Linked DNA regions of Homo sapiens: regions 2, 3 and 4 are each reported to be linked to region 1. The links are microRNA targets in miRTarBase. Many come from high-throughput screens and were not tested one by one. Region 1 holds a microRNA gene; each other region holds the end of a gene's coding sequence.
The links. The annotated mature microRNA hsa-miR-6127 reads UGAGGGAGUGGGUGGGAGG and lies in region 1 at 2,131-2,149, shown strand. An mRNA with a match to its seed (bases 2 to 7 or 8) in the 3' UTR can be bound and repressed. Matches are read on the target gene's strand: a 7mer-m8 pairs with bases 2 to 8, a 7mer-A1 pairs with bases 2 to 7 and ends in A, and an 8mer does both.

Region 1 (7,118 bases):
TTGGGGGCCCGGGAAGGCCCCCCGCCCCACCCTTCAGGCTCAGAAGTGTCTGCTCCCACTGCCTGGCTTCTCCCTCCTCTTGGCGCCCACTCTGATCTTAGAGCAAAGTTGGTGCTGAGCCTGGGTGCTGTCGCAGCCTGGCTGGGTGTGGGCATGCTTGGGGCAGTGCTGACACACTAGACCCCTGCTGCCTTGGCCCCCTCTGGACTTTGGGCACTGACTAGCATGGAAGGAAAGCCAAGGGGAAACTGAGGGCAGCTCGGCACTGGCCTGCAGACGCTCCTTGGCATGAACAGCCTGGGCACCATGAACAGCAGCAGGAGACAGACAGGCTCCTGGGTGGAAGGGGATGGGTCCCTGGTGAGGCCCTACCTTCAAGCCAGGGAGGGCCTCAAGGCTGGGGGCCAGGCTGCCAGTCCCACACACCAGAGTGGGAACTTATGGTGTATTTTCTGGGCTTGCCTATAGCCACCCATGGACCAATCAGTATGCACTTCCTCCTCTCTGAGGCTCATGAAAGCTTCAGGCTCAGCCAGAGCTGGGCAGACATTGGATGACCAGCTGCCGAGAGGAGCTACCCGCTCCAGGGCCTCCTCTCTGCTGAGAGCTGCAGAGATGGCAGAACAACTTGCCTGCAGAAAGGAGCTTCCCATTCCAGGGTCTTCCCTCTTCTGAGAGCTGGAAAGTCGACAGGATGACCTGCCTGCAGAGAGGAGCTTCCCATTCCAGGGTCTCCTCTCTGCTAGCAGCTGAACACTCATCAGGACACCCTGGCTGTGGAAAGGAGCTGCCCCCTGAGGGAGGCTCTGCAGGAGGCTGAGCTGTTCTATCGCTCAGTAAAGCTCCTCTTCGTCTTGCTCACTCCCCACTTGTCTGCATACCTCATTCTTCCTGGTTGCAGGATAAGAACTTGGGACCCATCAAATGGTGGGGCTGAAAGAGCTGTAACACAAACAAGGCTGAAACATGCCCCTTGCTTGCCATGATGCAGGTGAAGGGAAGGAAAGAAGAGCTGCGGCCCTCTGGGGAACCCAGACCTGGGAGCTCCCCAAGCTGGAGCTGTGACTCCCTTTTCGGGGCCCTGTGGTTCCTGGCATCTCGAAGCTTCTGGGTGCCACCGTGTTCCCCGGTGCCAGCTGTGGAAGCTGCTTGTGGTGTACTTGGTCTAGCCACAACCTCTCAGAGAGCTGGCGCCCATGCTGGCACCTGGAGCTGCTCACCCCGCTGCAGCAGCCGGCATGTCTGACTGTGTGCAGTGGCCAGACCCCATGTTCACTCACACACCCTTCACTGTTCCATGCCTGACTTGCCCTGGGCAGATGTGGAACCCAGGCTGGTAATGTGAGCTGAGTGCTGCCTGCCAGGAGGAGTGAGTGAAACAAGCCCAGTGGGCCTGAGCAAAACTTGGGCAAAGGTGCCACCAGCCACAGAGGTTTCCGGCCAGAAAATGACACCCCAAAGATCCTGTAACACCATCTCAAAAAAAAACAAAAAACAAAACCCAGCAACAAAAGCCTGTGAATTCTACCATCTAGAGACAATTGCTGCTAGTGTTTGAACAGATCATCTAGCCTTACTCACCTTAACTGATGGGATGCTCATTACCTGTCAGCACGGCACACTGCATCATTGTCAGCTTGGACCCTGAGAATGCTTTTCTTTAGATAGAGAGGCTCTGTCTCTCCCAGACTGGAGACCAATGTGTTCAGGCCTGGGCTGACCACATCTGTCTGCTTCTTCTCATGAGCATGTTTTTGTTTGTTTGTTTGTTTTCTGAAAATTTTGCCAGAGGCAGGAGGAGGAAAAGAGGAGGAGGAGGGAGGAGATAAGGGAAGGCTGTTGAAGTGGGCAGATGAAGGATGGTCTAGAGCCAGGGTTTTTGAGCTTTGGGGACTTCTTTTTCATTTGCAATCTTGTGTGGCATCTGATGTATGTCAAACAGATAAAAATGGGGATACTGGCTTGAAGGGTGGGGGCCCAGAGCTCCCCCTGACAGCCCCTCCCATGCTCCCTGGATTCAGAAAGTTCGTGGAGCTGGAATCTCATCTGCTCAGCCCATACCTAACTCACAGTGTGACCCTGGGCAAGTTATCTCATCTTTCTGAACCCCACTTTCTCCATCTACCAAGATGAGGGAGTGGGTGGGAGGTGGGAAGGCTGCCCCAAATGGCCTCTAACATCCCTTCCAGTCTCCTCCTCCTCCTCCTCCTTCTTCTTCTTTTGAGACAGAGTCTCATTTTTTTGCCCAGGTGGGAGTGTAGTGGCTGGATCTCAGCTCACTGCAACCTCTGCCTCCTGGGTTCAAGAGATTCTCCTGCCTCAGCCTTCCAAGTAGCTGGGATTACAGGCACGCATGCACCACCATGCCCAGCTAATTTTTGTATTTTTAGTAGAGACGGGGTTTTGCCATGTTGCCCAGGCTGGTCTCAAACTCCTGACCTCAGGTGATCTGTCCATCTCGGCCTCCCAAAGTGCTGGGATTACAGGCGTGAGCCACCGCGCCCAGCCCAGTATCCATCTTCTTCTTCTTCTTCTTCTTCTTTTTTTTTTTTTTTTTTTGAGACAGTCTCACTTTGTTGCCCAGGCTGGAGTGCAGTGGCTCGATCTCAGCTCACTGCAACCTCTGCCTCCTGGGTTCAAGAGATTCTCCTGCCTCAGCCTTCCAAGTAGCTGGGATTACAGGCGTGTGTGCACCACCACGCCCGGCTAATTTTTGTATTTTTAGTAGGGACGGGGTTTTGCCATGTTGCCCAGGCTGGTCTCAAACCCCTGACCTCAGGTGATCTGCCCATCTCGGCCTCCCAAAGTGCTAGGATTACAGGTGTGAGCCACCGCGCCCGGCCCAGTATCCATCTTCTTTGACTGCATTGCGTCAGCCCTGCTTGCCTGCCAGAGGAGTTAGAAACATGACATGCCCGAGGCAGAAACGCCAGCCCTGCGTGCCCTATTTTACTCTGAAGACACAAAGGACCAGAGACAAAAAAAGACTTGCCCGGGTCACACAGACAGGGGCAAGAGTTGGCAAGAGGAAAAATCAGATACTGTGAAAAGCTTCTCAAAGTCTAGTTTTCAAAATATTGAATACCCAGTTCCTATAGAAATACAGTGTGGGAATGTGTCAGTGTCCTCTTGTAGGTTGTTAATGGAGGAACCAGCTGGGTGACAAAGCTAGTTCAATGGATATGGAAAAAAATATATATGTATACCTATATATGGAGACAGAGAGAGTCAGTTAAAACAACAAGAATTCTGGAATATTCATAAAATTGCTAAATTAGATACAAAACTGGTTAGTGTTCTATAGGGCAATAAAATCATCATGTTGGGGCTATCTTCTCTATTGAAAAGAAATCATTTGCATCTCTACTAGACAAAAATAATTTGCAACTTAACAGTTTTCTACCAGTTAACAGCTATCTTTACTGAATCTGGGCTCTAATCAATAGTAAATAATAAGTCAAGCCAAGTGACATTCCCCTAGAGTGTCAGATGACCCTTAGCAGGGTTTGTTAGATACAGCTCTCATTTGACTTTGAAAGGACACCGGTTATCTATTTGCCTTATTTCCAAGTGTTGGATGATTTTACTTATCAGGCTGTTGCAAGAGTATAAACACTTCCCAAGAAATAAAAGACATCGATACTAATGCGCATATCATTAGTGTGAGAAATAAAAGGGTCAGCAATGGCCCTGTGCATGTCACAACAGGGACACCTTCAGGCGGAGAGGAAGGGCATATTCTTCCATTTCTCCAGAGCCCAGACTCCTAGACGGGAGGCAGGAGATGTGGGGAAGAGAGGAAATTCCTAGCCATGCTTGCACAGTTATGATCCATGAGGTTCAGTCTCAGAGTGGGATCAAAGGTCAAATAAATAACCAAAAAATAATTTTTAAATGACTTGAATTCTTTATGGCAGTCACATCCCATTCAAGGGTTGTGTTGCAAAATCGGCATACGAGGCAAACATTGTAAATGGTGAGTATCACCATTGTAAATGGTGGAAAAATTCTTCAAACAGCGCCACGTGAAAGACTGTATTACCGTTTCACAATAGTCTTTTGCTGTCAGTTTTGGCTCCAATAGTAGAACAGATTTCTTTTTCTTCAGTTGAGTACCAGTTGGTTAAGGTTAACCAATTCCCCCACCACTCACACACAAAGGAATTGAATCTTTGGAGACTGGAGCCACCCTTGGAGGTGAGGTGTTTAGATCATGAGGGGTTCACAGGAGCGGAGGCAGACTTGGGGACAGCAGAACTCTCCCAGCCACGGTCCCTCCAGAAATAGGCTCTTAGAAGACAGTATCCCCTGGCTGGGAGCAGTGGCTCACGCCTGTAATCCCAGCACTTTGGGAGGTCGAGGAGGGTGGATCAACTGAGGCCGGGAGTTTGAGTCCAGCCTGACAAACATGGATAAACTCTGTCTCTACTAAAAGTATAAAATTAGTTGGCCTAGTGGCACATGCCTGTAATCCCTGCTACTCGGGAGGCTGAGGCAGGAGAATTGCTTGAACCCAGGAGGTGGAGGTTGCAGTGAACCAAGATCAGGCCATTGCACTTCAGCTTGGGCGACAAGAGTGAAACTCCGTCTCAAAAAAAAAAAAAACCAATATCCCCTGCCTTACTTAAATTGTGATTCTCTCTCTGAGTCCTATTAGGCGAAGTGGAGATAGGCAAGTGTGTATATAATGCGACTCTAAGGTGCTTGTATATTTCTTTTAAAAAAAATGAGGCATAATTTGCACAGAGTAAAATGTGCACATCTCAAGCACACTGCTCAGTAGCTTACACCTGCACGCACAGGCCCTCTACCACCACTCAGATCAGAGTGCAGAGTATCCATCTCCCCAGCGAGGCGGCCGTGACCCTCCAAGTCAACAGTGCTCCCCTCCACCCGCAAAGTAACCGGTGTTCTGCTCTCCCTCACCATTGGTGCCTTCTGCCTGTTCTTGAACTTCATGTCAATGGAATCATGCGGCCTGTGCTCTTTTGTGTCTGGCTTCTTTTGAAGAGCATGCCGGTGAGATGCATCTGTGTTACGTGTGTCAGTTTGCGTGGTATTGCTGAGTGCTATTCCATCGTATGCATATGCAGTATCACACTTTGTTTGTCCCTTCTGTTGGTACAGAGTTTGGGCTATGATGAATAAAGCTGCTAAGAACATTCTGGTGCAAGTCCTCTGCCCCACCCAGCCCTGTGAACAGATACACTCAATTCTCTGCTGTACATTTGAACACCAGGAAGGAGGCATAGAGTTGACACCAGTGCTCTTTGCTCTTTTCCATCCACTCCTCCAGACCTCTGTCTTCAACTTCCTGTCTCCAGCAAAAAAAAAAATCTCCCGGCCCCTCTGCCCAGAGCCACTGTTCCTCCTTCTCCCTGACTCTCCTGCTCTCTGTTCTTTATTATGGAGATTGTCTTAGTCTCGCCTTTCTTGCAAAACCCTCCTTCTGGGCCTTTTGGGGTCTATCCTTCCATTCTTTGTCCCCACCACCCAATAAGATCAGGGTTTTGTTAGCAAGTGGTTGGGGGAGGCATTTGGAATTGGGGAGGGAGCTGTTGTGTGAGAGAACTGCCATGTGTTGTCTGTGCACACTCTTTATTCTTTACTTTTCTTGGCAGATAAAAGCACTTCTTGGGATTATTTTATGAAACGCAGAGGGGATTGTAAACAACAGATCATTTGTTGCGGAGATGGAGGCAGCATGTGTTCAAATTCAGTGTGTGTCTCTCTTTGGCTGTGTGATCTTGCACGAGTAACCTCCTGTGTCTGGGGCTCTAGCACCTCACCTATAAACTGGGAATGATGACCTCAAACTATGCCAGGCTTCCAGACAGTAGTGCGGCTGGTCTCTGGCACACAGTAGGCTCTTAGCACAATGTTTTACCTCCTCCTACTCTCACCTGGCACTCAGAGGGCCGGTGCATGAAAGAAAATTTGGAAAAAAAAAAAAAAAAAAAAAAAGAAGACAGAAAAGATTTATTGGCAGGGGAGAGTGAAGAAAAATAGGAAGAAATAAAGCCCCCCAGCTGGAAGCCAACACCCTGAATGCCTGTGAGGGAGGCAGCCCAGCCCGGAGGGGAACTGGGTGGAGCTGCTCTGGAGACATTCCCCACAGGCAAATATAGCCGGAAGCCACCAGGCAGGTAAGATGTAAAAAGATTAAGAGGACTAAGAGTTTGGAAAACAAACAGATCGGGCTGTGGGAGCCAACAAGGAGGTATTACCTCCACCTTGAGAGGGCTGGGCCTGACGTCCAGGTTGCTGGGAGATGCTAGCTTCCAAGGAGCTCACATAGGCATGAGGGTCACAAGAGAGTGGCCAGGGAGAGCCTGGAGTGCAAATGATCTCCCTCATCTGCCCATCACAGGACCTGAAATTCCTCCTGTAGTCATTCTTTCCACAGGGTAAGCCTTGTCCTCTCTGGGGTGTTTTGAGGTTGATGCTTCACCGTGGTATGTTTGCAAGATGCTAATAGGCTCTTCCTTGTGAGCCCTACTGAATGCTGGACTTCCTACTGGGTGCTTAATACACGACCTCACTTCATCATCAGAATCCCCGGGGAGGTGGCATGGTGACAGTCCCTTTTACAGATGAGGTAACTGAGGTTCAGAGAGGGTAAGTGACTCACACAAGGTCACACAGCCGGTAAATTGAATAGTTATTTATTTATTTATTTATTTATATTTGGGCACGGAGTCTCTCTCTGTGGCCCAGGCTGGAGTGCAGTGGCGTGGTCTCGGCTCACTGCAACCTCTGCCTTCTGGGATCAAGTGATTCTGGTGCTTCAGCCTCCCAAGCAGCTGGGATTACAGGCTTACACCACGACACCTGGCTATTTTTTTTTTTTTAGATGAAGTCTTGCTCTGTCACCAGACTGGAGTGCAGTGGCACGATCTCAGCTCATTGCAAGCTCTGCCTCCCAGGTTTAAGCAATTCTTTTACCTCAGCCTCCCGAGTAGCTGGGACTACAGGTGCGCGCCACCATGCCAGGCTAATTTTTGTTTTTTTCAGTAGGGACAGGGTTTCACCACGTTGGCCAGGATGGTCTCCATCTCTTGATCTCTTGATCCGCCCGCCTTGGCCTCCCAAAGAGCTGGAATTACAGGCGTGAGCCA
Region 2 (7,118 bases), not on the chromosome of region 1:
CATTTGACTAAAGTAGGCCCATTTCATGAGATGGGCAGGTGTGGCCAGAGTAGAAGGATGGATGTCAGGTCTTGGAGACGGGCCAACTAGGCACGACTGTATGACATAGATGAGACTTTTGAGCTTGAAACACCTTGGGAACATGGCAGTGTATGGACACCGAGACCTCCTAGGACAGCAGCTGCCTAATGCAAATGACCCTGTTCCCTGCTAAGGCTGCAGTGAGATGCCCTCATGGAGGGGCAGCTGTGATGAGTGAGCCCCAGGCACTCTGTTGGTGAATATGTCCACTTCTGGAATGGAATCTCCCTAGTGGGTATGGACACGGGCAGACCCAGAGGGGTCTAAGCACTGCACTGTTTCTTCCTTTGGCTCCTCTCCAGTCCGGGCCTTGGTAGCCTCTCCACTACCAGGTGCCTGACAGTCTACTGGGGGTTCCTAATCAACAGCAGCTGCTGTTGGTGGGGAGTCCCTGGGGTCTGTCACTTCTTCCCACTGCCTCTGTCTCAGTGCCTCCTGGGCTGTCAGTGTTCCCCTGTGGTCCTGCCTTGTATGAAGCGCTGGCCATGCTCTGTTGACTTAGATCATTTCAGCCAGTCTATGTTTTTTCTTGTTTTTGAAGTTTTGGGTTCAGCACAATTGTCAAAGCTTCAGTTGGCTCATGCCTGTCCTCACCTGAAGGCCATCAGTGGCAATTAAGATGCCTATCTCTTTATCTCATCCCTTCACACATTTAAGGAAAGGTGATCACCCACCTACCTTCATTTAAATGCGCAGGAAAACAATCCCACTTCCCTTCAACTGTAAACCTCGAGAAACTTGACTGCTCACAAGAGCCTTGTACGCATTTATCCATTGGGTAAAGGCCACGCCTTGCAGCAGACCATGGAAATACTAAACAAAACGCAATTCCTGCTTTAGAGGCTAGTAGCCCCATTCTGAGGTTAAGAAACGTGCCCTTTCAGTGTGGTTTCCCTGCTCTCTCAGTAGTGTGAGCTCCATCACTGCTGCACTTGACTCCTAAGCGCTGTGTGGGCTTGTGGTCAGCTGCCAGCCATGCAGCCCCAACGGGACTGCCACTTTTCCACTGGCCTCTGAAGTGCCAGTGTTCCCATGATGCTGATGTGTGAGGCACATGGCCATGTTCTGTTGACTTGAATATATTGTTTCAAGGGTTTTTTTGTTTTGTCGAGACAGAGTCTCACTCTGTCGCCCAGGCTGGAGTGGCAGTGGTGCCGTCTCGGCTCACTGCAACCTCTGCCTCCCGGGTTCAAGTGATTCTTCTGCCTTAGCCTCCCCAAGTAGCTGGGATTACAGGCCTGTGGGACCACTCCTGGCTAATTTTTAGTAGAGATGAGGTTTCACCATGTTGGCCAGTCTGTTCTCAAACTCCTGGCCTCAATGTCTCTTCTAATCAAAGATGGCTTCCTTGAGGTGGCAGCAGATTGGAGGGTGTTCTGGAACCTTTATAAGCTTTAAAAGGAAAGGTAATTAGTGAAGTTGGACTTGAAGAAGAGTGAGATTCCCGGGCAAGGGCAATTTACCTAATCTTGGCCTTTGTTCCTCTTTGGATTGGTCCCAGGACTGTGCTGGCTTTCTGAGCATCTTTTAGTCTGGAGATAACTGAGACCTGGAGGGGCCACTCAGGGATGTTCCTAACTGGTGTGGTGTGGGGCTGGGGATGGAATATGGCAGCTAGATGTTGTCAAAGGTCATTATAGTTCACCTTAAGTTCTTGCCTTTAAATGGCTTTCTGAAAATCACCAGAAGCATGAGAGATCCAGTCCCTGTACCCTCTCCCCCCTTCCTAATCCCCTAGCCATGGCAAGCAGAGTGGGGATGAAGGAATATATCGTACCCCTGACTCAGTTCTGCCTGGAGGCTCCCTTCCCATCAGCCTTTCAGCAGAATGGAGATTAGGGGAATGCGTGTGGATTTACTCTCATGAGTGTGTCCCATCTTTACCCCTTCGGAGTTGGTGGACAGCCCAACTCCACCAGTAGGAGGAAGAAGCAAAGCAGCAAAGGGCTTTAGGTAGTGGACATACCACCCAGGCATGACAAAAGGGACTCTGTGGAGCACACACTTCAGGAACTGTTTTTGAACCCCCCCATTTATGACTGCACCACTTAAACACAGACAAGAAGCTTTGTTTTGAGAATTAGGACAGTTTATTGTTTGACCAACATGCTGAGTCTTTTCCACATTTTACACAGTTTAATGTGAAATCAACATGGCGGCTATGTCTTCTGAGCCCATAACAGATGGAATTGCCACCCTCTGTGCTCCTCACAGCCAATCACTTTAAAGGGATGGGTGAGGGGAAAGTGAGGGGAGAAGTGGACACACACCGCGAGATGCAGGCTGGCCTTCAATGCTATGGAGGCTTCCCACCTCCTGAAGGAACCATCTAAACCCCTGCTGCAAGGATTTCCTGATGAAACCACACACTGCTGGGAGTGCCAACCAGACAGGGGTCTGGAGTCCAAGGAGTTTGCACATTGAGATCCCAAGGTTTTGGAACACCTAAATAGTTCATGTCAAACAAAAATTCAAAGGGTGTCCTGATCTGTGTGGGTGCCCATGACAATCAATCAGAGTAGACTTGGGGACTGGCCCTTGTGCAGTAGAGGAGCCCAAAATACCACCAATATTCTCACTCATATGCTGGGAAGAACCTAGTGTCCTAACCAAAAAGAGTAGAGATGGTCTGAGGAACACACCCACACACAGCAGTCCTTGCTGTGTAATAAATATGGAGTCACATTTGTTCACACACAGGGCAGCAATGGATGAAAAATGGAAACTTCACTGGTTCTGATCACTCCTAACTTGCTGGGTGATCTTAATAAGCAAGTTGCCCTTCTCCATCCTGGTTTTCCTGCCTGTAGACAGGAAAAGTTGTGACAGCTCTGCTTCACATAGCTGTAACAAGGTGACAATGCCTCACATTCTTTGGGGAGAGGCAGTTCGGAAACGAGTGTGCGCACAATCTGCTCGGTTGATGCACACAGACATCCTTCTGTTCAGCTGCCCCTCAAGTGGCTCAGACATGCCTCACTGTCCTCGGCTACCTGGTCCCATCTCATCCTGACATCCTCACCTGCCTTCCATCTTGTGAAGGAATGAGGCTGCTCTACCTGCAGGATGCTGAAGCCAGGAGGGCCATCCCTTTATTGTCACAACTGGTATCCCAGGGCAGGGCCTCCCCGCACTGGCTAGCCACCAGGATGATGCAGACGTTGCACCCCAGATGTGTCTGCACTCTTAACTACCACCATTTCAATCCTTGTTTCTGTTGCCAGAGATACTGAAACTGGTCTGGCCATTGCTCCCCTCAGACCTGGGAACATGACTGAATGTTTAAGGATGACAAGAAGAGAGCAGCGATAGATAGCAAGGAGGCCTCTGACCAAGGGAAACTGCTGCCAACAGCTACCAAGCCAACTAGCCTTGGATCACACAACTGCAGCCATGGTGCTCATGATTCTGATGTCACACCTTCATGTTGATGTATGTATGATCACCCAGCAAGTTAGGAGTGATCAGAACCAATGTGTTTCCACTTGTAAATAGGCTGTTTGCTTTTTCCATCTTACACTCAACTTTCCTGATGCCTGCAGAACAGGAGCTTTGTTGATAAGCTTTTAAGATTCACCCCCTTCACTCCCACCATCCCCAAAAAAGAAGGCCAAGAGGATCCTGCTAATCTGCCAGGTCACGTCTAGTCTTTGGGGAGAGGGACTGAATTGCTCAATTGAGAACATTTCCTCAAAGGAATCCTCCAATTTGCCCTCTGCTAACCCATCTGGATTCAGCAAAGATGCAATGCTCTTGCTGGGGTGCTGAGGCAATGCCATGACATCTTCTTCAAGAGCACCTAACAGTTTATTATGGAACCTTAACTCTGTGCCAATTCTACCTGCAAGCAAGGGGACAGGGATGGTGCCTGCTCAAGACAAAAATCAGGGAACCAACAACTTCTGAAAAAGAGGTCTGGCTGCCTTTCCACACCCCAGGAAGGGAGGGGCGGAAACCGCACGTGCCGAAGGGAGCGCCATGGAACCACTGAGATGGGAGGATGGGAGGAAGCCACCCTCAGCCTCAGAGGCCAAGGGGCTGGGGAGAACCCAAACTCAAAGAGAGGATGTTGTGTGCATGCTAGGAAAGGCAGGACTCACTAAGGCCATGTCAAACCAAATGCTATCTTTTACTGCTCCTCTAGGCCAGGATGGAAACACAGTCCACGGTGCCTTGGATGTGTGTGCCCCTGAGAAGGGAACTGAGTTTCTACTGTTTTATGGGATGTTTTTTTAAAAAAGCTAATCTTTAGTGCCAAGAAAATAAAAATCTACCATACGTTCATTCACTGAGACCCAGTGCAGATTCCTGTAAATGGGGCGGTCTCAGAGGCCACAGGTGATGGCCCCCGCTGCCAACCAGGCAGGACACTGTCATGTGGACTCCTGTAAATTCTCTCGAGGTAAGTAAGCACTCTTCCAACAAGCACCACTTGGGGGTGTGCCCATGGTGGGGGGACACTGGCCCACACAGGCATGCACACCCGTGCATATAAAGTACATAGAGAAATGGTGGAGATATTCCCGTGGGCTATGTTTGCCTGTAGTTTAACACAACTATGCATTATTTTATTGATGGCAAGACAATCACAAGTTATTTGACAATATTAAGTATTTCTTATTTCAACACGTTGCAGTACTTTTGAATTTCCAAAACTTATCACAATGCAAGTTCCAACTTGAGAGCAGGAGAAACAAGAATATACATTGAGCACATGTATCTCCGTGAGGATGTGTTTGTGGAAGGTGTATACACAAGTCTATCTCTATATATAATTATGTACACACATATAAAAACTAAACACATGACATCTGAAACACGTTCAAACATTGGTCCTTGCCTTCTGCAAGAGGTGCTCAGTGGGATCCTGCTTCCTCTCTTCTTCACCTGAAGATAAATTCCTTGCTAGAGATGAGCTCTGGCATACAGCCTCCTAGGCAGAGGGTGTGTGGCAGGCCCACTGCACAAATATCAGTCCTGCCAGATTCTGCTGCACTTACTGCCTGCCATTTCAGATTAATTTCTGAGAAGTTTCAAAATTCATTCCAACGACCTTGTGGAGTTCAGCCCACCATACCCCAGATGGTCATTCATCCCATCTATGACATGCCCAGCAGCAGCCTGGAGGGAGAGCCAATGACAGCAGGGAGGGTGGGGTTTACATTTTGGCCAGACTCACTGCCCATTGCACCTGGCTCTGTGCAGGCTCAGGGCAGTGAGTCTGAGTCTATTTGGAATGCTGGCCAAGTAGGTTATATCACTTAGTGGGAAGAGAGAGTTCTCTTCAGAGACTTTGCAGATTCTCAGGACTAAGCCATTCTCAGGAATGAATCAAAAATGGAAGAGATGGCTCTCTGGGGGCAAGCAGCCTTCTGGAGACCCCACCTGAACCACATCCTCAGGTGACCACAGCGCAGCCACAGTAGCCACAAAGATATGTCCACAAAGACTTCAACTGCGCCATGCCACTGGGGTGAAAACATAGCAACAAATCAGCTTTTCCAGAAAGCACTCAACAATATTAGCAGCTGAGGCTCTAAGAACATGGATCTTTCAAGGTGGTGGTTCTGCAGACAACACCCCCCCCCCCCCCCGCCTCCCCATCACAGAGGATCAACTCCAGGTGGTCCAGCTTCCCTGACATCCAGGAGGAAGGCTTCAGGATGGCACACTGCCCAACATCACACACTGAGTTTCTTAGACTTGGCCCAGGCATGTGTACTGACTGCTGGGTGGGCTGGTTAAAATATTTTCAGAAGTACACATGGCACCCCAGTCTATAAACCACGCACCACGCAGCTGCAATTGCCAACAGCACCTCGTCCTTCTGATGGCCTCTTGCTCTGCCAGTCCCTGAGGGCACAGAGAACACAAGGTTGCCTGTACCCTCAACCCCCTTCAAGGCTTTTCAGGGAAAGAGAAGGAGAGGTGGGAGCAGTTCCTCTGGGGGCTGCTGCCGGGCTGCCTAGAGCCCACAGACCTTGGTCTCAGCTCCACACGAGGTTGACGACCCACTCTGGCCATGGAAAGACAAGAGTCAGAGCTACCTTTTCAGAGGCTGATGTGTTCAACCAATGTTTGATTTAACTGGAGTAGGGCCTAGAGAGTGGGGCCAGATGGCCCCAGACTGAAGCCTAATTAATTTGCTCAGTTAATTGTTTTAATTTATTGGGCTGGGGATAGGAGGAAGGCAGAGGTGATGAATGGTTCAAAGAGAACAGGAAGGAGGAGGTGTGTGGAAAAGGTTCTCTATAAGTTTACAAATATACAAAAACAAAAAGCACATCTTTCAAATAAAAATGACTACATTTTTATCTGGCAAAAAATTGTATACACATGATTTAAATTTTTTTTAAATTTTAACAGTTTTTGGCAATCTTAATAAAGTACAATATATTACAACCAAACCAAAAAATAGTTGTTTAAGTAACAGCCGTTAAGAGTGATGTGATCCCTGATGCCCAGCCTCCCTCCCCATCCCACCCTACTCCTAAAGACAGAGAGAAAAGAAAAATCCTCCCATCTTGATAACTCGGTTCCCTCCCCCCTTAGGAAGCTAGCCAATAGGAAGCAACACAACAAGCAAGGAGTGTCATGGGAAGCCACAGGTCGGCTCTGCATTAGCAGGAGCAGCCGCCCTCGCTGGCCGGGGGCTCCTGGGGTTTGTCCAGCTTGATGTCGATCACTGCAGGGGGACGGGCTAAGGAAGATGACTCTCCTGGACAAGCTGCCACCCCACTTAGCCCTGTGCACTGTACCCTTTGGCTACTGCTCTGTTTCTCTGCAAACACCTAGGGACTTGGCTCTTGGTTTGGCTGGGCTAGGAAGGATGCAATACCAACTCCACCTTGCCTCCTCTTCCCTTCACCCGTCCACTTCCCCCAGCGCCTGTCCACCCAAGCAAAGCCTGTCTTGCCTGGGCCGTGGGATCACCATCTATACCAAGGCCAGGGAGTCCCTTTCCCAGAAGCCTTCCCTCGACCAGTGCTCAAATGCCAGCTCCCAGCCCTGGCCTCAGCCCAGTTACCTGTCAGCCC
Region 3 (7,118 bases), not on the chromosome of region 1:
GGACATTTTCTTTCTTTTTCTCTTTCTTTCTTTCTTCTTTTTCTTTTTCTTTTTTTTTTTTTTTTTTTTTTTTTTTGAGATGCAGTCTCACTCTGTTGCCCAGGCTGGAGTGCAGTGGTGCAATCTTGGCTCACTGCAACACCCACCTCCTAGGTTCAAGTGATTCTCCTGCCTCAGCCTCCCAAGTAGCTGGGATTATAGGCACCCGCCACAACATCTGGCTAATTTTTGTATTTTTAGTAGAGACAGGGTTTTGCCATGTTAGCCAGGCTGGTCTCGAACTCCTGACCTCAAGCGATCCACCCGCCTTGGCCTCCCAAAGTCTTGGGATTACAGCCGTGAGCCACTGTGCCCCGCCCCGAATAGGACTTTTTCTGTTGCCTCTTAAATGGTTTAAAGAGGGCAGCCAATAATGGGGTCAGAAAGCTTCTCTCTGCCTAGCTTCCCAAAAAAACAAAGCTGCCAGCTGGCTGTTGGACAGGTGAGAAGTCTTTGGTGAGATGCTTCATCATCCTCTCTTTCCTGAACTCTTCACGTGTACCAGGGCTCTGGATAGGAGGGGGTGCTCCAAGAAAATGTTTAGGAAAGACTAGGGTTTCCTGATAGAATGGGAGGAATCAACACACTATCTCCCCATTGGGTGTCTGTGTGGGCAGCCAACTTCTTGCTGTGCCCTGCATCTCCCTGCGCAGGGGAGAGGAGCATTAGAGAGGAAAAGCTGGGGGCAACGAGGAGCTTGGGGCAGTGTAGCCTGCACTCCACAGTCCAGCATGGTTAGGATGTGTGGGTTTCTGAGTCCTTTCTGGCTACTATAACAACAATACCATAGGCTGGATGGGTTGTAAACAATGAAAATTTATTTCTTATAGTTTTAGAGGCTGGGAAGTCCAAGATCAAGATGTCAGCAGATTCAGTGTCTGATGTGGACTCACTTCCAGGCTTACAGATGGTGCCTTCTGGTTGTGTCCTCACTTGGTAGGAGGGACAGCTCTCTGGGGTCTCTTATTAAGGGCACTAATCCCATTTATGAGGGCACCACCCTCATGACCTAATCACCTTCCAAAGGTCTTGACTTCAAATATCATTACATTGGGGGTTAGGAATTCAACCTAGACTTTGGAAGGACACATACATTTTGTCTATAGCAGGGGGTGGATGGACACGAAGGAGGGTAGCTGGGCTTCTGCAATCTAGGTGATATGTCACCCAAGAAAGCGGTAAGAGGCTGCATGGTGTCTGCCAATGGTGGAATTGGAGAAGGTATGGGAGAAGCAGGGGACACAACTCTCATATCAAGAAACAGAGGAGGCTGGGCACGGTGACTCACATCTGTTATCCCAGCACTTTGGGAGACTGAGGCAAGCAAAGCAGTTGGGGTCAGGAGTTGGAGACCAGCCTGGTGAACATAGCGAAACCCCATCTCTAGTAGTAAAAATACAAAAATTAGCTGGGTGTGGTGGCGCGCACACGTGTAGTCCCAGCTACTCGGAAGGCTGAGGCATAAGAATCGCTTGAACCCGGGAGGCAGAGTTTGCAGGGAGCCAAGATCGCACCATTGCACTCCAGCCTGGGCAGCAGAACAAGACTCTTGTCTCAAAAACGAAAACCAAACAAGCAAACAAACAAAAAAACATGATTGACTCAGTGATCAGAAAACATATAACTATTTTATATTCATACTTCCTGCAGTTAATGTCCCAGTTGACTGGTTAAAAAGAATATTTGGGGGCCAGGCGCAGTGGCTCATGCCTGTAATCCCAGCACTTTGGGAGGCCGAGGCGGGCGGATAACAAGGTCAGGAGATCAAGACCATCCTGGCTAACACAGTGAGACCCCGTCTCTACTAAAAATACAAAAAATTAGCTGGGCGCGGTGGCAGGCACCTGTAATCCCAGCTACTCGGGAGGCTGAGGCAGGAGAATGGCATGAACCCGGGAGGCGGAGCTTGCAGTGAGCCAAGATTGCACCACTGCACTCCAGCCTGGGCGACAGCGAGACTGTCTCAAAAAAAAAAAAAAAAAAAGAAAAAGAATATTTGGCAATACGGAAAGTTCCCCTTGGGTTTTCTGACTCCAAGCCTGGTGTTTTTGTTTGTTTGTTTGTTTGTTTTCATTTGCACAACATTGCCTTTCCCCAAGAGTACTGGATAACAATGCCCTCCCTCCAAGTCCCAAGTCACTATTGCAGAAGTCAGGACCTTAACACACACATTTCAAAGTTACTGACACCTAGTCAAACCTGGTGCCTTAGCAATGCAATCTTGTAATTTCCCAGGTCAAACAGATCTTCAAGGGTTGCTCTCATGGCAGAATTTGGTGGTAGAAGGAAGGAAGCAGAGTCTCAGTCTTTGTGCAGCTTGTAGGGAGTTCCCTTTTTCTCAAGCCCTTGCAGCATCCTTCCCACTCTAAGCTTAAAGGAGACTGTGTAACCAGCAGTGCTCACCCATCCTGGGCCTGAGTTTGAATCCCAGCTCTGGAGTTCAGCTGTGTGACATGCAAGACCTTGTCCCTCTCTGAAGTCCTTCTGTAAAATGAGGTGGCTGCATTGGGTGATCCCATTCCACACCATGAGTCTATAGTCCTATCATCCTGGGTATACCGACGTCTGGTGGCCAACTTTGGTCCTTGCAGCTAATTCAGGTTTTTTCTTTGTTTTTGAGACATAGTCTCGCTGTGTCACCCAGGCTAGAGTGCAGTGACGCGATCTCAGCTCACTGCAGCCTCTGCCTCCCAGGTTCAAGCGATTCTCATGCCTCAGGATCCTGAATAGCTGAGGAATACAGGCACCTGCCACCACACCTGGCTAATTTTTGTATTTTTAGTAGAGACAGGCTCTCGCTCTGTTGCTCAGACTGGTCTCGAACTCCTGAGCTCAAGTGATCCGCCTGCCTCGGCCTCACAAAGTGCTGGATTACAGGCGTGAGCCACCGTGTCCAGCTCAGTTTTTAATTTTTTATTTTTCAGTATCTGGAGTGTTTAGCACAGCCAGGAAACAAAACACACCAGAGAGGGCCACCTTGCCATGTCACCAACGATGCAATAACTACCGAAGAAAGGCCCCTTGGGTGGCTATGGAGGAGCAGAGGTCAGCAGAGGAGATGGCCAGCAAAGTGCTCTCCTTTGCTCTATTTCTTTTCTTTTGAGACGGAGTCCCACTCTATTGCCCAGGCTGGAATGCAGTGGCATGATCTCGGCTTCTGCAACCTCCATCTCCCAGGTTCAAGCAATTCTCCTGCCTCAGCCTCCCGAGGAGCTGGGATTACAGGTGCCCGCCACCACACCTGGCTAATTTTTGTATTTTTTTAGGTGAGACGGGGTTTCACCATGTTGGCCAGGCTGGTCTTGAACTCCTGACATCAGGTGATCCGCCCACCTCAGCCTCCCAAAGTGTTGGGATTACAGGCGTGAGCCACTGTGTGATTCTTAGCATGTTGTAAGTTTGTCATTGTTCCATTTCCAAAGCATTCCAACCTCCATCCCCGCATGCGTTTGCACTTCTTTAGATTTGTGGGTCTGAGAGCGCATTAGCACCCCATCCACATGCAGTCTCCTGCCCTTCCAATCCTCACCCTGAAAACCTTCCTGTAGTCACAGACCTAGTCATTTTTCCCACGGCTACTCTTGAACTCTTTATGGACCTCTGCGCTCGCTTCCTCTTCTGTGAAAACAAATGAGTTTATGTAGATTAAGATCTAGCCAACTTCTGTAAAGGATCAGATGGTAAATATTTTAGGCTTTGCAGGCTAGTGACTCAACTCTGCATGAAAATAACTGCAATGTGTAAAGGAATGAGCATGGTTGGGCACCACACTGAAATTTGAATTTCATCTCCTTCCCAGGGGCCCCAGAAGAGTCTTCTTCTTCGGACTTTTTCCCCAAGCATTTAAATGTAAAAACATTTCTAGCTTGCAGGTGGTATGAAAATAGGCAGCAGGCTGGAGGTGACTGAGGAGCCTATCTAGTCTTTTTTTTTTTTTTAAACAGAGTCTCGCTCTGTTGCACAGGCTGGAGTGCAGTGGCGCCATCTCAGCTCACTGCAACCTCGGCCTCCTGGGTTCAAGCAAATCTGCCTCAGCCTCCCGAGTAGCTGGGACTACAGTTGCGCACCACCACGCCCAGCTAATTTTTGTATTTTTAGTAGAGACGGGGTTTTACCATGTTGGCCAGGCTGGTCTCAAACTCCTGGCCTCAAGCGATCCATCAGCCTCAGCCTCCCAAAGTGCTGGGATTACAGGCGTGAGCCACTGCGCCTGGCTGTATCTAGTCATCTTTAAAGACCCTCCCATCTCTGAGAACCCATGAAACTGCGCAGTCCTCTGGACTGGAGCTGGGGTGTGTCAAAGGCAAATCTTTGCCTGCCTTCTCAGAACACCATATTCAGAGAAGGCCATTCAGGACAGATTTGTCAGGCTGTTCCGAATGCCCAGGTCTGGGATGAGATGGCCTATCCATGGAGGATTTTTATTTTTTCGAGACAGGGTCTCACTCTGTTGCTCAGGCTGGAGTGCAGTGGTGTGATCTTGGCTCACCACAGCCTCTGCTTCCTGGGTTCAAGTGATCCTCCTGCGTCTGCCTCCCAAGTAGCTGTGTTACAAGAAAGGGGTCCTGATCTAGACCCCCCAAGAGAGGGTTCTTGGATCTCACACAAGAAATAATTCAAGACGAGGCGGTAAGGTGAAAGCAAGTTTATTAAGAAAGTAAAGGAACAAAAGAATGGCTACTCCATAGACAAGAGCAGCGCCTAGAGCTGCTGGTTGCCCACTTTTATGGTTATTTCTTGCTTATTTGCTAAACAAGGGGTGGATTATTCATTCCTCCCCCTTTTGGGACATATCGGGTAACTTCCTGATGTTGCCATGGCATTTGTAAACTGTCATGGTGCTGTCAGGAGTGTAGCAGTGAGGACGACCAGAGGTCACTCTCGTGGCCAACTTGGTTTTGGTGGGATTTGGTTGGCTTCTTTACTGCAATCTGTTTTATCAGCAAAGTCTTTATGACCTGTATCTTGTACGGACCTCCTGTCTCATCCTGTGACTTAGAATGCCTCCACTGTCTGAGAATGCAGCCCAGTAGGTCTCAGCCTCATTTTATTCAGCTCCTATTCCAGATGGAGTTGCTCTGGTTTAAATGTCTGACAGCTGGGACTACAGGCACACACCACCAAGCCCAGCTATGTTTTGTATTTTTTGTAGAGATGGGGTTTCACCATGTTGCCCAGGCTGGTCTCGAACTCCTGGGCTCAAGCAATCCACCCACCTTAGCCTCCCAAAGTGCTGGGATTACAGACACCCAACCCATTTGGAGGATTTTTTTTTTGAGATGGAGTCTCGCTTTGTTGCCCAGGCTGGCGTGCAATGGTGTGATCTTGGCTCACTGCAACCTCCGTCTCCCAGGTTCAAGTGATTCTCCTGCCTCAGCTTCCCAAGTAGGTAGGATTACAGGCGCCTGCCACCATGCCCAGCTAATTTTTGTATTTTTAGTAGAGACGGGGTTTCACCAAGTTGGCCAGGCTGGTCTCGAACTCCCGACCTCAGGCGATCTGCCCACCTCAACCTCCCAAAGTGCTGGGATTACAGGCGTGAGCCACTGTGCCCTGGCCAGATGTTTTTTTAAAAGAGAGAGAAAGAGAGAGAGAGAGAGAAAGAGAGAGAGAGAGGGAGAGAAGGAAACTTTGCACTCTGTTATCTTCAACCTCTTACTCTACCTTCCTCCCTAGCCGAAGTCCCAGTCCTAAAGCCTAAGAGACCCTCATTGGAACTTGACTTCTGCATAATCCGCCTGGGTGCCCTTGGGCATCCGGGCCTCAGGCCTGGGTCTGACGCCTGGGAAGTTGAGCGTGGCATAATGGAGCTCCTCTTGGCTCTCCTGGGATTCTGGGGCTTGAGTGGATGATTTGGGTTCTGGGAAACTGGGCAACTGATACTGCTTTTTCTGGTTCTTCTTTGATTCTGGGGAGGGAGCACCTGGTGGAAGAGGGGTCCGAGGACTGTTTGGTGTGGCTTTCTGATTCCGCTTCTGAGCCTGAGGGAAGAACCACCATCCTTCATTCATTCATTCAGCAAATATTTGAGCACTTACCACGCGTCGGGCACTGATTTACAGCACAGAGTGAAACTAAGTCCCTGCCCTTGCCTTGCTGAGCTTGCATTCCATCTTGGAAGGAGGAACAGACAATAATTAGCAAAAGTACAATGACTGGTAAGTGACAAATGCCATCAAGAAATTTGAGCACCTTTAGAAGGCAGCGAAAGGGAGGGTGGGATGACTGTTTAATAGGTCATCCAGGGAATTTCAAGACCGGCCTGGCCAACATAGCGAAACCCTGTCTCTACCACAAATACAAAAATTAGCCGGGCGTGGTGACACATGCCTGTGGTCCCAGCTACTCAGGAGGCTGAGGCAGGAAAATCACTTGAACCTGAGAGGTGGAGGTTGTAGTGCGCTGAGACTGCGCCACTGCACTCCAGCCCGGACAACAGAGACAAAATCTGTTTCAAAAAAATAATTGATAGCCGGGTACGGTGGTTCACACCTGTAATCCCAGCACTTTGGGAGGCTGAGGCGGGTGGATCACCTGAGGTCAGGAGTTTGAGACCAGCCTGATCAACATGGTGAAACCCCGTCTCTACTAAAAATACAAAAATTAGGGGGGCATGGTGGTGGATGCCTGTAATCCCAGCTACTCAGGAGGCTGAGGCAGATGAATCGCTTGAACCAGGAGGTGGAGGTTGCAGTGAGCCGAGACCTTGCCACTGCACTCCAGCCTAGACAACAACAGTGAAATCCCATCTCAAAAAATAAAATAAAATAAAAATAAATAAAATAAAGAATAGCATGCATGCACGGAGAGAAAGACTGGAGGGGGTGAGAACGGAAGCAGAGAAGGCATGCAGAAGGGGCCAGTGGTGCCCGGGGTGGGGTGGGGGGTGTTGATGCATGGCTTGTAGTAGTGAGGGAAGAGTAGGGAGAACTGGCTTGGTTGTATTTTGAAGGGAATTTGCTGATGGATTGGTTGTGGGGTGACAGAGAAGAGAGGAGTGAAATATGATTCTAAAGCTTTAGACTTGGCTGGGAAAATGTGGTGTTATTTGCTAAGATGGGGATAGAGATGGAGCATAA
Region 4 (7,118 bases), not on the chromosome of region 1:
GAGCCTGGCCTGTCTACCAGAGGTCTTCAGCAGTAAAGTCGACAAACTTTCAGGGAGTGTTGACTTTTGAGTCTAGAAAGAAAATATTGCAAACAAATCCGATGTATAAAAATGGGCTGAGGGCTGCTTTTTCCTGGTAGGACTCAATTTTGAGTTTTGTGTGGATTTAAAGGGATCCTGCAGGCAAAGTTCTTAAGCTTGAGGTTTGCAGAGGAGCAGTAATAGTAGCTTCAGGCTCAAGAGAACGAACAAAAATGGTTGATGCCTGGTAAGGGGGTCATAGTCGACACCAGAAGCTCTTGCAGGGTGTGTGATGGGCCTTTTGGCCCAGGTCAGTCTGGGTGACACATGAGCTGTGATCTGTGAACAAACTCACCAACACTCCAAAATGAATGTATTAGGACTAAGGCTCCCGAGGAAGGAAGAGTCTGTGCAGAACAGACTCAGCTGAGCCCCACAGAACGAGAACAGGCTGTTCCCTGCTCCCTGTATCATCAGATGTAGAAAGCCAGAGCCTCAGGGAGCAGCCTATGCAAATGTGTCTCTTCATAGCGGGCCAGATAACACTGTCTCTCCTCATCAGAGATTTCATACCTCTATATTGTAACCCACAAGAGGAAACATTTTTCTGTTGCATTCCAGAACACATATACACACAACTCCCTAAGCTTCATAAAACAATACTTATCCTGCAATATGTAATGCATTAAACATTTTTCTTGAAAAACATGCTGGTTGCAAACCATGAATGGCTGTGACCAATGGTTTGAAAAGCACAGCTCCAACACAGCTAACATTTATAAAGCCATACCAGGGCCAGACGCTATACATTCCTATTCATCACCCTCATTTAATCCTTCCATTAACTTTGTGATTTAGATTATCATTCCCGTTTTCAGATGAAAAAACTGAGGCTTAAAGAAGTTACTGCTCAAGGTCATATTTTGGTAGTAGGTGCGGTAATAAGTAGCCAAGCAGACATTTCAACCAAAGACTGAAGCCAGGACCCAAATACTTGGTCACCAGACTATATGGCCTCAGCTGCAGAAATTCAGGGCATCCTTATGTCCGTGTTAGAGCATGTGCGGCCCCTAGAAGGCTTTTAGCGAACGTCCCTCTGCAGCGCTTGTCCTCACTCCTTGGATCAGCTTCATCGGCTCCTCCTGTGGGCCCAACAGAGCGGGATCCCTGGGGGCCACTCTGCTTTGCTACGGCAATCACACTGCTCAAGTCAGCAAGATGTTTACTTGAGGGAGAGGGTGAGAAAAAGAAGGTTCAGGTTGGGAGTACGCTGGTCAGTGGCTTGTTTCTGCTTCACTGTGAATTCTTTCTCTTCTATGAGGTGATCCTAAGCCAGATACATATTTAAAGAATACAAGAAAAAGCCACATGGGTGTTGAAACCCACACGTAGAAAGCAAAGGTCAAGACGTGTTCAGGTCATGTATCCAGGCTGCTACAATGCCCCTGGCTCTAGACTACTCACCGGCCGCCGCTCCCATCTGGAGGTCCCTTGGTTCTACTCTTTTCTCTTTCCCTTCCGGGCTGCTTCTTCACCCAAAGGGCCCTTGGTCTAGAGATGGGTTCCACTGATGAGATGCACAAGGAGTGGTGGGCAGGCTAATAATTTGGATCTGCTTCATACAGACTTTCTTTGATGTCTTGGCAGTTGTTTGTTGGGGAGGCCGCAGCTTATGAGGGAAGGCAGTCTCAGTGGCTTCTCCGCGGAGGGAACACGTGCCTGTCTCACAATCAGCACACCCCAACTGCACTATGCTGAGCCCAGCAGCACACAAGACCCATATCACCAGCAGGCATCAGGGACCACCTGAGGGGGGACTCCTGCTAGCCCCAACTGGATTCTCAAACTTGATAGTCAGAATCACCTGGAGGGCTGTTAAGACACGGGCTGCTGGGCCCCGCTCGGTTTCTGGTTCGGTAGCCTGGGGTGGGGACCGAGAATGTGCATTTCTAACAAGTTCTCAGGTGATGCTGATGTTGACGTTGCTGGTCTGGCAACCTCAAGAACACCTTTGAGGAGGATTCTAGCAAAATCTTTCTCTTTTCACATTTCTTTGATATCTAAGGGCACCTTCTAGGTGGGGCGCCTTCCCCTCTACTGGCTGGCTCACCCTTTAAGCTGATGCACTGCAAGTCTTGAAAAGAGAGAAATTTAAAACCCATTAGCCTGGCTGAGAAAGCCCATCCCAGCCCACCCGGAGAGGAGTTTCTGTGTAATGCCAACCTCACATACATGTTTAAAATGTTTGTTTTTTTTTTTTGAGACGGAGTCTCACTCTGTCGCCCAGGCTGGAGTGCAGTGGTGCGATCTTGGCTCACTGCAAGCTCCACTTCCCGGGTTCACGCCATTCTCCTGCCTCAGCCTCCCAAGTAGCTGGGACTACAGACGCCTGCCACCACGCCCAGCTAATTTTTTTATATTTTTAGTAGAGACAGGGTTTCACCGTGTTAGCCAGGATGATCTCGATCTCTTGACCTCGTGATCTGCCCGCCTCGGCCTCCCAAAGTGCTGGGATTACAGGCGTGAGGGATGTCCACAGTGAGAAGTGTCCGCGCCCGGCTTAAAATGTTTGTTAATTTACCTCACCTAAACGGTTTCTGCATTAGGGGACGGTGGATTCTAACTATTTAAGTGGCCTAGCCAGATGAGCAAAAGCTAATACTTGGGGCTTTTTCAAGAAGTACAGGGCTGGGCCCAGTGGCTCACGCCTGTAATCCCAGGACTTTGGGAGGCTAAGGCAGGAAAATTGCTGGAGGCCGGGCATTTGAGACTAGCTAGGGCAACACAGTGAGACCCTGACTCTATTAAAAAACAAAAAAATTAGCCAGGCATGGTAGTACGTGCCTGTAGCCCTGGATATTCAGGAGGCCAAGGCACAAGAATCACTTGAGCCCAGGAGTTCAAGGCTGCAGTGAGCTCTAATTGTGCCACTGCATTCCAGCCTGGGTGACAGAGCAAGACCTTGTCTCAAACAAAAAAGAGGAAGTACAGTATGAAGAAGACAAAATGGTGGGACTAAAAGGAGATTTAGCACATGCACTTCTACCCAAATGTGTTTTGTGTACATGATATTACCAAGCCCATGCAAATATGCATAGATTATAGATTTGCTTGGATCTAAGCCTTTTGCATATTCAGTCTAGTTGCTATGAACACAAACCTGACAGAGTTGACAGAAGGAAAGCAAGCTGGGGATCACAATCCAACAAGCCACATCTTTATTTTTCACTTCCACTCCCCAGAGCCCAGGCTCTGAAAGACTGTGGCTACGACTGGTTCAATTTCCCATGAGTGCACCAAACAGTACTATCAGAACTCCTGTGACCAAGCCAAAAGTTGGGGCTGACTTTGTGTAGAAAGATGTCCTCTTTCATTACATCCGGAAATACTGAGGAGAGCTCAGGGATGCTTTCCCTTCCTGTCCTGTGTGGAAGCCAGGCTGGGAACCAATCACTACCCTGCAAATGATGGCTACATTCCTCAGTCATTGTGCTCTTGGCAAAATATCAGTCTGAACAAAAATGAAATAGGAAAAATGCCAGGAACCTTGGGGTATTCCTATCTTCTGAGAGCAACTGGTTTGAGAGCTCAGAAACATTGACTCTTTCTAGCCAAGGCCTATACAAAACCAGAGGCAGAATCCTATAGGATATCTGAAGGAACCCCACTCTATTGGAAAGATAAGCATAGTATGCACAGCTTTAAAGGAGGAGTTTCTATTTTTAGGACTAAAAAAAAGTCAGTGCATCTTCAGCACTATCTACTGCATTCCTGAGAAATGCCAGGGGAAAAGAGCTAACCTGGCTCACTTTAAAAAATGCCCTGGAAGATGGAGTATTACCAATCTCTTCCCCCTAGGGGAGGGCCAGAGCTGTAGCCCTGCTCTAGTTATTTAATACAATAACACTTCTTTCATACACCTAACTGAGCTGTATGTTATGAAAAAATTTTAAAAAAGCATATGGAAAACAAATGCTATCAACTTGATCTAAAACAGCATTCTTTTCTTTTTAATCTTAGCATCTCAGCCTCGCCCGTATCGCATGAATAGCACCGTAGACACGAGGTAAAGTTAACTGACTCAGGAAAGCTCTTAGGAGAGCCCATCAGCACAAAGGAATTGATTCAGGCTGCAGAAAGCAAAGGAAAGAGGCCTGGTGGGGCAAGCTGGTTCAAGAGAGGGACCATAAATGCATTTTAAAACAAAAAAAATAAAGTATCCTCATTCAAGAGACAGAGCAATGAAACAAACACCCAACCAGAGAAAACTCAAGTAGATTGTGGATAGTCGGCCTCCCACTAAGGGTAACACCTCAAGAGAGAGCTAAATCAGAACAGGTTTTGGAAAAATTTTATTGCATTTTGTTTCCATGTGGAAGCACTGACAGAATTGAAAAGTGGCAGCATGTTCCACTTACTTTTCTGAAAAATCACATGGCTAGATTAACTTTCGCCCTACCCAGGACAGGATTGAATAAACCTTAACTCCTACCCCCACCCCAAGCAAAAGCTAAAAAAGGGGGTTTCTGGCAATTGCTTAAAAAACAAATCAATGTGTGAGAATTCCCCGATGGTCAATAATCATATTTGTTATTTTTGCACTTGGAGGGCACTCCCTACCTCCTTCACCTCTATCCACCATCACCACCTCCTTCAAACAAGACTGACACAGGAAGTGCCTCTCAAATGGAAAATCTATTCTGTCCCAGTGCCACAGGCTTAGGTGTGTCTGTGGATTCTGGCCAATGGGATGGCCATATGTCAACTTTGAAAGGGTGGGGACTGTGAGGTAACCCCAGCATCATGGTCATCTCCATGCCAGGACAACAGTCTCCCAGGTTAAAATATAGATAAGACACAGGTACGTGCACATTTATGGGGGTTAACTATCAGAAAGTGAATCCACTTTGAGGTTTATAAAATGAGAAGGGGATGATGGTGGGGCTGTATGTGTTGGGCACTGGTGCCTATTGCAGTCAGAATTCACACTGCTTAATTGACATCTTGCTGGGGAAGAGAGGGAGATGGGGTGGTGAGAGAGGAAGCAGATGAAACAAAGGAAAACGTAGCTTGCCTGAAATTGTGTAATTTTTTTTCCTCTTGATTGTATAAGGCATTTTGAACTGGAAAAACGTCTTTCCTACACACTCTTCCAAATAATCACAGGGAATATAATTGCTGATTCAGAATACAAATAAGACCTCTTTCATCTTTCTCCCCACTCCCCCGCAAAATCATTCTACACACCCCAAGCCCATAAAGTACAAGGCAGGCAATTGCTTTGCGAGTTAGCAGGCAAACCGTGTCCACTTGGGGGATGAGGTCGCTGTGCCAAGGTCCCTTCTGATCCTGCCCTTCTCAGGCCTCAAGGGGTAAGCATCCATCTTCGGTGAGGTTTTATGTCCCATCGGGGAGCCCGCCACTGCCTCCTGGGCAGTGGGAGGTCAGGGCCCTCCTGGCTTTCCCATGCATCCCCCACCAGGTGTCCAGACTATTCCATCCACGCACAGCGTCATGTCTCACTCAGTTAGTAGAATGGGCACAGCGCGAGACAGCGCCCTCTACATTAGTCATGCCAGACAGACAGCAGAGAGAAACCAGAGGCCAGAGAAGTGATTTTAAAAGGAAAAGAGAGCAGCTTCGGTCACCAAAAGAAATCGAAAGGATGGTTTTTAAAAAATAAAATGTGGGGACTTTTTTTTTTCTCTGCAATGCTCAGCCATTTTACTTGAGACATAAAAAAAGTTTTAAGAGTAGTTGTTTTGCTTTTTCGATTTAAACATTCATGAGAACGGATGGGACGGTAGTGCTGTGGTGTGGACTTGTGTCTGAGTGGCCATGCCGGTCGGGGTCCTTCAGACCACATACTGGTACGGGTCTGCCTTCCCTTGGTCTGGCGTGGCAAAGGGGCTGGCCCAGCCTAGAGAGAAGGGGTGGCCAAAAACGGCTTTCATGTTCATCCATTTTGTTTTTTTAGCCCATCTTCTCTCTTCCTTTTTCAATTGTTCTATTCCCTGAAAACAAGAACAATCATACTTTCAGTCAAGCACTGCATTGCTGTGGTTTCTGGGGAGGGATGTCCGCAGCGACAGGTGAATGGAGTAAATGTTTCCTTTTTAAAGCAACAAAGCTATCTACCTAATATATCTTTCTCATAAAAAGTGTTACTAAAAAAATTTCTCCTTTTTTTGGTGGGCACTCATTCACAAGTCCCTCCAAGAAGGGAGGGAAAAAGAAGCACTATCAGCAGCGCAGAAACTGCTGCTTGTAAGTATGCCAGGCCGGGGTGTGTCGCTAAGATAAGGAGCGCGTCTCTCCAGCCCTGGCCCCTTGTTGAGCTCTGCAGAGGCACTCTTCAGAAACTCTGTGCTGGGCTGTGGATGGAGTACTATGAAGGCTTTGGCGTGAGAGGCCTCAGAGCTGTTGGGGAGCTCGCAATCATCATAACCAATGATGGCCATTAATTTGGGATAGGTTCCTAGGAAGTTTGAAGCTACCATGACCACCTTGCAGACAAAAAAAAAGTAACAAATCAAATGACTGCTCTGGCGTTGTGTGTCTCACCAGCCTGGGGGATCAAGCAGCACCCCGCTTAGTGGGCCTGGTGAGACACAAACTGAGAAGGTTGAATAGGAGTGACAGACCACGAATGAGGGGAGAAGTCACCAGAGGAGGAAGGAGGAGGGATTAGTACAGGTTAGAGGGTGGCATGGCCAGGCCAGCCAGCATGGCATGGCAAAGGTCCTCCTAGTGGCTCCTTTGGGGAGAAGCATGGCGCAGACCTATGCAGCAGCTGTCACGGAGCCAGCGCTGCTTCCCCTGCTAAGTCTCAGGAAAAAACTGGGGCTGGGGAAAGAGCTGCTTCCTCCCTCTCTCTCTTCTTCAGATGGAGCTGGTCAAAGGGCAGGGCTTGAGAACGGGGCCCCTGCCCAGAGGGAAAGGACAGGAGCAGCCTGGCAGAAGCCTGGCCAGGGGTCTGTCTGCTGTGGTCTCTAGTAAAGGGGTGCTGGGAGGACAGCTGAGTCTGGGTCTTTCTTCACAGCCTAGGGACCTGGGAAGGGCACAGGCCAAAGGGAAGACACCCCTTCCCAGGTGGG

Region 2: the mRNA of RAB6B is a reported target of hsa-miR-6127. Seed matches in the 3' UTR shown: 7mer-m8 at 5,206-5,212.
Region 3: miRTarBase lists SIGLEC10 as a target of hsa-miR-6127. Seed matches in the 3' UTR shown: 7mer-m8 at 5,653-5,659.
Region 4: the mRNA of ZDHHC3 is a reported target of hsa-miR-6127. Seed matches in the 3' UTR shown: 7mer-m8 at 5,039-5,045, 7mer-A1 at 2,545-2,551, 7mer-A1 at 1,695-1,701 and 8mer at 1,249-1,256.

The regions. Positions count from the first base shown.
Region 1 is chr1:22,628,359-22,635,476 of GRCh38, reverse strand. MIR6127 (microRNA 6127) reads left to right here and starts at 2,111; the gene lies at 2,111-2,219.
Region 2 is chr3:133,822,087-133,829,204 of GRCh38, forward strand. RAB6B (RAB6B, member RAS oncogene family) reads right to left here. Exons shown (of 8, transcript NM_016577.4): 8 at 2,149-6,766. The coding sequence ends at 6,702. It also overlaps a transcript of SRPRB not described here. Among named protein-coding and RNA genes, the nearest start is that of SRPRB, 20 kb to the left of the region's middle.
Region 3 is chr19:51,405,352-51,412,469 of GRCh38, forward strand. SIGLEC10 (sialic acid binding Ig like lectin 10) reads right to left here. Exons shown (of 11, transcript NM_033130.5): 11 at 4,669-6,020. The coding sequence ends at 5,748. Among named protein-coding and RNA genes, the nearest start is that of SIGLEC10-AS1, 6.8 kb to the right of the region's middle. RefSeq lists enhancers at 2,532-2,581, 3,599-4,099.
Region 4 is chr3:44,920,813-44,927,930 of GRCh38, forward strand. It overlaps ZDHHC3 (zDHHC palmitoyltransferase 3), which reads right to left. Exons shown (of 7, transcript NM_001135179.2): 7 at 1-6,035. The coding sequence ends at 5,877. Among named protein-coding and RNA genes, the nearest start is that of TGM4, 50 kb to the left of the region's middle.